2 linked regions of the Homo sapiens genome follow. The protein of the gene in region 1 purifies or fractionates together with the protein of each later gene. This does not show direct contact. Each region holds a gene or a part of one and is shown on either strand. Other genes may lie near its edges. The genes, in order: C10orf90 and GPR150.

What was found.
Region 2: the proteins of C10orf90 (region 1) and GPR150 purify together in Homo sapiens (affinity purification with mass spectrometry; one large-scale study listed by BioGRID and IntAct). This does not show direct contact.

Annotation. Positions count from the first base shown.
Region 1 is NC_000010.11:126,660,686-126,664,499, reverse strand, and holds part of C10orf90 ((E2-independent) E3 ubiquitin-conjugating enzyme FATS), read left to right. Parts: intron 1-3,814. UniProt on the Homo sapiens protein: Tumor suppressor that is required to sustain G2/M checkpoint after DNA damage. Acts as a p53/TP53 activator by inhibiting MDM2 binding to p53/TP53 and stimulating non-proteolytic polyubiquitination of p53/TP53.
Region 2 is NC_000005.10:95,618,685-95,622,766, reverse strand, and holds GPR150 (probable G-protein coupled receptor 150), read right to left. Parts: upstream 2,681-4,082; 5' UTR 2,492-2,680; coding exon 1,187-2,491; 3' UTR 625-1,186; downstream 1-624. UniProt on the Homo sapiens protein: Orphan receptor.

The sequences.
Region 1 (3,814 bases):
CTCTTTGAGCCTAGTTTTCTCATCTGTGTTCATAGGAAAAATGATAATATCTGCCTTATAGCGTTGCTGGGGGCATTACAAGAGATAACCTATATAAAGGGTTAAGTCTTGGGGCTAGCATGGAGGCTGTACCCCGTGAAAGTGACACAGAGCCACGGCACCAAGAAGTGGCCCCTGGGTGCAGGCGAATTGTAACCAGTGATTTATGGGTGCTGCTGCTTTGTAAGCAGGTCTTGTTTAAATTGGGGCAAAACACTTCCTTTCCCTGCTTCCCCACACTCAGAGCGTCAGGTCACAGAGACTTATGACCTTCTATATTCTTGGCTCAGGGTAATCTCCATCCCCCAAGCAATTCAGAGATTAGTCATCAAATTGGCCAGGACCTGAATGCACAGTTTTCATTTAGAGCACGCCTACTCCTGGGGCCAGCTGCAAATTCCATCACGGACAAGAGACTCTTGAGAGTGTGAGTTCTTCCACACCTGATTCCCTCACGATAAAGCTAGGGCTAAGGTAGAAAGCATTAATGAGGCATTTTCGACATAAAATGGACCTCCCTAGGGGCAAGGATCTAAATGGGGTTTTACCATCTTATGGAAGATTGCATGGCCCTCACACCTTAGTGTACTTTAGAATCCTTAGAACTTTCTGAGAATTCAGACCCCTGGGTTCTGGGAGGGGTGGCATCCAGAAATCTATGTTTTTAAATAGGGTACTTGGTGGTTTTTTGCAGTTCTGAACCCATGATCTGCAAGTTCTAGACCAATATTTTCCAACCGCATGAACCCCAAAGGAAGTCACAAAAAAGCCAGCTGAATTGTCCATGTTAAGAAAACTGGTGTGTAGAAGGGCAGGGGGTGGGGGCAGATGTGAGTCAGAGAGGACAGTGTGGAAGCCAGGACCACTGCGTGCAAGGAGAGCTGAGAGACGGAGATGGAACAAAAGAGGCGGGTGTCAGCTGATTTCCTGAATTGCCTCATTGAAGCTCACCACAGCTGTGTGAGACACATGAGGCCTATTTTTCCAAAGAGAAAATTCTGTGAGGCCAGAGAGATGGTGCAGGCTGCACAGTGACACAGTTAGGAGCGGCGGAAGGAGGATTCCATCTATGTTACGTCTTCTTCTGCAGATTATACTTCTCACGTGGTGCTGGGTCGGGGGCAGCACATCTCCTGACAACAACAGCTAGAACCCAGGGAGGTTCAGAGCTAACTACAGAGAAAGTCAACTACACCAGGATCAAGTGATTAGGAGCAGTTATCATGCCCCTCTAAATCGGGTGCTCTTTCTCTTTCCTTCTGATTGAGACATTTGTCCCTCCGCAGCTTTCTCACTGATAACTTCCTTACAGTTCTGAGGACCACATGTGTTCTTACCACCCTCTGTTTTTGCCACTCTAGGTCCTCTTCCTCCTCTAGTGGAGCAGACAGATTAAAGAGGAAACACCTGGGCTGGCTCTTGTAACAAATATGTATTAAGGACCTACTGTGTGCCAGGAACTGTGGTAGGTGCCGGGGACACAGAGGACAAAGAGGCTTATCATCTGATCAAGGAGGCACCCATCCCAATGATGCCAGGCCAGGGTGTCTACCCAGATTGTGGATCCAGAGAACTCAGCAAGAATGCACGGAGGCACCCATCCCAATGATGCCAGGCCAGGGTGTCTACACAGATTGTGGATCCAGAGAACTCAGCAAGAATGCACGGAGGCACCCATCCCAATGATGCCAGGCCAGGGTGTCTACACAGATTGTGGATCCAGAGAACTCAGCAAGAATGCATGGAGGAGACCTCTGGGCACATTCTTTATGGAAGAGTGGGAGGTTTCCAGGCGTGGGGGGACAGAGAGAGTATAGGCAAATAGGGAAGGGGAGGACATTTTAGGCAGAAGGAATGGCAATTTCTGAACGGGGGCACAGGAAGGGAAAACCTAAACAGAACCCAGTAGTCTCTCTGAGCTGAGAAGACACAGGATGTGACTGTTATTTGCAAGGCACACTTCTTGAGAGGAAAAAAAACAGCTCCAGAAGTTTGCTTCAGGCCCTCTTAAGTCTGGCTGAAAATTAATCTGTGCTGTGTAGGGAGAAAGTCTCTATGACCAGACAGAGAAAACTGGCAAGGAAAGAACATCTTACTGGGGAGCTGTGAGATGAGCCTTTCTCAGCACTACCTCAGAGCCATGAATCATTCGGGTCCTTTACCACCTGGAATGTAGAGACCTCACTGAATACAGGGAAAATCACGTAGAGCCCCGAGGAGGGTCATGTCTTAGTAGTGCGGCTAAACTAGCCTCAGTAAAGGCTACCCTAGATCCACCCATAATAATTTTAAAACCAGTTGTTGAAATAATCAAGCCATTCCTCAAGTGGTTTAGCTGGCAAACAAAGTTCAACTTTTTTTTTTTTTAACAAGACTACAACAAAATCCAGCAAGCAATAATATAAAATTTACAATGTCTGTCATCCAATCAAAATTACTAAACATTCAAAGAATCCAGAGCATATGACTCATAACCAAGATAATACTGGTTAGTAAAAACAGATTCATTAATGATGCAAATGAGAGAATTAGCAAGCAATGATCTATTAAAAGGCTATTACAAATATTATAATTATATTGTTTGCCCTTTAAATTCAAGGATTTAAGAAAAGACATCACCATAATGGGGCAAGAAATAGATGATTTTTAAAAAAGAACTTCTTGATAAGAAAAAAATGACACTATCTAAAATGGAAATTTTACTGGGTGGGATTAACAGCAGATTGGATGCTGCAGAAGAAAAGATCAATGAACTTTCCAAAATGAAGACAAGAGAGAAAAAAAAAAAAAGAGAGAGAGAGCAAGAGTGAGATTCAGAGAGGGAGAGACAGCAAGAGAGAAAGAGCACTGTAAGATCTATCTGACATCATTTTGGTCAATTTCCATCAGGGAATTGGGAACTTGTGGGGAAACCATATCCACATTTCAGCCAAACCAAGGGAGAGAAGAGATGGCAGATGACAGGTGGTGGTGTGATTAAGAGAAAGAGCACTGGGTCGAGACTGTCTGGGTTCTTACTAGCTGAGTGACCTTGGCAATTTTCTTGTTCTCTTTGAGCCTAGTTTTCTCATCTGTATTCATATGAACAATGATAATATCTGCCTTATAGCGTTGCTGGGGGCATTAAAAGAGATAACCTATATAAAGGGTTGAGCCTTGGAATTGGCATGGAGGCTGTACCCCATGAAAATGAGTTGTTGTTGTTGTCCAAGTTTGAACATATGTTTTCCTGCCATCTCCAACTCTATCATAGAGCCATGGCACAAAGACGTGGCCCCTGGGTGCAGGCAAATTGTAACTAGTACTTTATGGATGCTGCTCCTGTGACCTGGAGGATGATATCAAGAAGCCCAACACACATATGATTAGATACACAGAAAGAATGTGGGGGAGGAGTGAGAAGAAAAAAGATTTGAAGAAATAATGGCTAAAAGTTTTCCAAGTTAATGACATTTGTGTCAAGCATACAATAGCAGAAGCCAGATTCTCAAGGTTGTCCCATGCCACGTTAAGTGTTTCCAAAATCATGGTCCACAGGGTTAACAGTAGGGGTTCTCCAGTCCAAGGGAAATGATCACCATGCACAAATTAACTGAAGCAGCTAGCTGCTGTACTTATGACTGAGATGATATCAATTTAAGGCAGGATCATGTATTGTGTCTGTTATGATTGGCTATTAGAAAAAGGAAAAAATCTGGCAGACACAATCTGTATTTGTTTTTTATTGCTGCCTAACAAATTATTACATACATAGCAGCTTAAAACAACACCATTG
Region 2 (4,082 bases), on another chromosome or scaffold:
TTTAAACAATCATTTCCCCTTTCTGCATCTTAGGTCTGCATTTGTGCATGAACAAGAAACACTATAATGGAAAGCTTTAGATCCTCATACAAAAATCACTGATAAACCCATGGATATATTGTTCATAAGTGCTGCCACTTCTGTCTAGAACCAAGAACAGTTGAGAGGAAGAGGTTACTGATCAAATCCGCTCTTGACCTTGTTCTCAGCTATCCACACCAACAGGCATTGAATTCATTTTTTTAACAAGGGAGTTTTATATACACATGCAGCATTCTGAGGTTTTGACTTCCTTCCTAGCTGCAAATCTCTTTGAGGCTCCATCTGGGACACTGAGCCCCACCCATATGCACCACCTTGAAGCTTCCTTTCTCTGGTTTGCTGGGGACTTTGTACGGAGAGGCTCCATCTGGGCATAGCATTACACCTTTAGAGGCTGCTGGGGGCACAGGGACGATTTCCAACAGAAACCAAGTATATTTGAAAGACACCAAGTCAAGCTTTTGTTTCCTTCCTACAACCTCAGCTTCTGTTGAAGTGGAAACTAGACTGGAAATAAAGGCCACGCTGATTTTCTTCTGAGAAAATACATTACTATGTTAAAAAAAAAAAAGTCCCAATTGCTCCGTGGGAAAGGTTTTTATTTTATAAATACTCTGTGGCTCTGAAATGACAGCATGATTACATTTCTGACAGCACTGGTATAATTCTCAGACTCCCCAGGGAGAGCAACGTGGGGATTTTCCTCCTGGAAAGAAAAGGCAAACTTGCAGGTGCTGAAGGTACATTTGATTTAAGCACGATTCAAAATAAGTAAATACAGATGATAACACAGCAAATACTGAAAGTTGGGTAATCAGCAAAAATAAATGGCATTATCCAGAGCACTATAAATGCGTGAAAGAAAACTGCAAAAATAACTGTTTTTGTTTTTACAACTTTCCAGTGGCTCACTGTCTCCAAATGGGGAGATATGAGAGGAACTGTAGGGAAGAAGAGAAACTGGAAGAGCATAGGGAAATGTAAACATGAGAAGGGAATAGGAGAGTGGAGGAAGGGGACAACTTCAGTGTCACTCTCTCACAGACTCTCCTGCCCCTTGTGATCTGGACAGACCCTGGCAGGCCTCGAGTTCCCTGGAGGTTGCGCCTTAGCGACAGATGACCCGTCTCTGACCACCAAGCACCTAGAAGGCACTTTCGCAGGAGCAAGGCAGGGGTCTGGGGCGCGGAGGGGGTGGGCGCAAGCCGCCCTCGTCCAGCGGTTCCCGCCGAGCATGGTGATAATGAGGGTGGGGCCAGCGTTGGCGGTAGAGCGCCTGGTGGCCCCGGGGCCCCTCCTCGTCCTCCGCGCCTCCCTGCGGCGCGCAGCACAGAGAGCCCAGCCGCTTCCGCAGCTGTCGCCGGAGCCGGCAGTCGCCCGCCTGGAAGAAGAGGTAGACGAAGGGATTGAGAGCGCTGTTGGCCATCGCCACCACGCGCAGCGCCGCCGACAGGCCCTCTCCCTCCCAGTCTCCCGCGGGCCCGGACGACCACGCGGCCGCCAGCCGGGCGGCAAAGTAGGGCAGCTCGCAGCCCACGAACAGCAGCGCCAGCAGCAGGCTCATCTTCAGGCTCTGCACCTTGGCGCGGGGCAGCGCGCTGGGCGCAGGGGCTCGACCTGGGCTCGCCGACCAGGGCGCTGCAGCCGCGGGGGCCTGCGGCCGGTGCCGCCACCAGACGGAGAGTAGGTGGCCGCAAGCGACGCCCAGGACCGTAACAGGCGCGACGAAGCCCGCGACGGCCTCGTAGAACGCGTAGACCTGCAGGTGCCAGCGCGGCAGGGGCGCGAAGATCCCGTGGCAGCGACGCTCCCCCGGCCAGGCGCGGGCGGCCGGGGGCGCGCCTGGCTGCAGGGACGTTGGCGGCGGCGGCGGCGGCAGCGGCGAGGGGGAGTCCCCGCGCACCACGAAGGCCGGGGGCAGCGCCAGCAGCAGTGCCAGCAGCCAGCCCAGGGCGGCGAGGGCACGCGCGGGCAGCGGCCGGCCGTGCGGAAGACGCACCGCGCGCCGGCGCTCGAGGGCGATGAGCACCACGAGGTGGGCCGAGGCGCCCCGCCCGGATGCCTGCAGCAGCTGCAGGAAGCGGCACGCCAGGTCCCCCGTGGCCGCGCGGGGCTCGCCCAGCAGTTCCCAGGCCAGCTGTGACAGCGCCGTGCCCCCGCACGCGTACAGGTCCGCCAGGGCCAGCTGCACCAGCAGGAAGTCCATCTTGCGACGCTTGGGGCCCGCCCAGGGCCCGCCGCCGCCGCACAGGCGGCACAGCACTGTGGTGTTGCCTGCCACCGCCACCACCAGGATGACCCCCAGGAACACCAGGCGGACGCGGCGGCTGGGCGGCCCAGAGGCAGGGGCTCCTTGCCCCAAGGTCAGGTTGAGACCCCAGCCCAGCAAGATGGGCACGGAAATGTTGGGCGCCGGCGGCAGAATTGAGGGGCTAAAGAGATCCTCCATCCTTGTCCCGGAGGAAGAGGAGGCACCGAAGAGGGCGGGCAGGACGCGGGAAACCAAAGTGGAGGCGAGGCGGCGCGGGGAGCGACGCTGGGTCTATACGAGTTCCCAAAGTTAGTTGAAAAGGCACACGCACAGAGAGGGAGATGGATTCGGGCGGCTTTGCGCTTAGTTGTTTTTGTCGATTGTCCTCGTGATTTGTCACTCAAATGTGGGTTGTACACTCGAGGAACACACATGATTCCTATTCTCCACCTTCCCCGCGTCTTCCCTCCCATTCCCGGCGGGTACTCTTCCAATCTCTGCAGCGGCCCCCGACGCTACCCTCGCGGAAGCCGCGGACCCCTGGGCGCTGAGAACCTCATCCATTCTCTATTTACGTGTAAAGCACAGCAGGACAGAATGTCGCTTTGCTTGGCCATTGTATACGGCCAGTGTTATGCCAGCACCCACACAAGAGAGGACCTCTTGACTGAGATTGTACCACACGCCCCCACCACCCCAATGTGATTGCCAGTAGGAAAAAAATAGAAAAGACATTAGTTTTTATTTTAAAGGTTTGAAATGCCATGGATCTGCACGAGCATGAGAAAAACAGGAACACAAGAAACCTAACAGCGTTTTGAGCAAAGAGGAGACCTATTAGCTGAATTTTGATCAAGATGTGTCTTCTCTGTCCAAGAATGAAAGTATTTTAATTAGAGGGTACTAAAGTCAATGATGTTGCTTTTAGGAGTGGCAGTGTTGCAGATCGTTCCAAATACTAGGAGCAGTGGGTCACAGCTGCTTTCTTGGTGATGTAAAATTCATTTCATTAGTCTGAAGAGGGCATTAATAGGTTTTATGCAAATGGTAGTGCATTTATTGCTTTTCTCCTAATATTTTCATCCAGTGAAGGATGCGTCATCACACTCCTCATTCTCTTGATTCTGTTTTCCAGCAGATGGGAAGTTGCTAGGAGGGGCTACGCCTCCAATAAGCCTAGAGAAAAGGTGACTAAGAAAGTGATAAGGCGGCCAATTTTTTTAAAAAAGAAATCCAAGTCACAGGAAATGGTTTAGATTAAATGTTGCTGCTTTCATTTTAGCCTTGTCTCCTCACAAACACATTTTAGTTTCCCTGTTGGAAGCATCCATTTGTCTTTTTATGCACCCTCCACGTTAATCATGGTGAAAGTAGAATTTCCTGTACTTCCTGGCCTGGGGGCCAGGGAGGTATGAGTGTTGTCTAGGGTTCACATTCCCAATCTGAGGAAACATTTGGAACTTTAAGATTCATGGCCTAGGAAGATTTGGTGGGTTCCATGATAGTCCTGCCAGCTGCTGTAGGAATCCCATTTCCCAAGCTGTTGTCCTTTGGCCAGAAACCTTGGTTATTTTCATCATCATCTCTGTGGTGCCTCGCTCTGGTCTGACAGGTTGTAGTTATCAGTGGGTATGTGTTGAGTTGATGAATTAGTGGATATACGATGCTTTTCAGATACCTTCGAGCATAAATGCCTGCCTTGACTATAAATCCATCACCTAAGAAAAAATTCCTTTTATACTATGCCAGTATTGTCCAGAGGAGCCCAAGGAAGCTCTGTGGAGACATA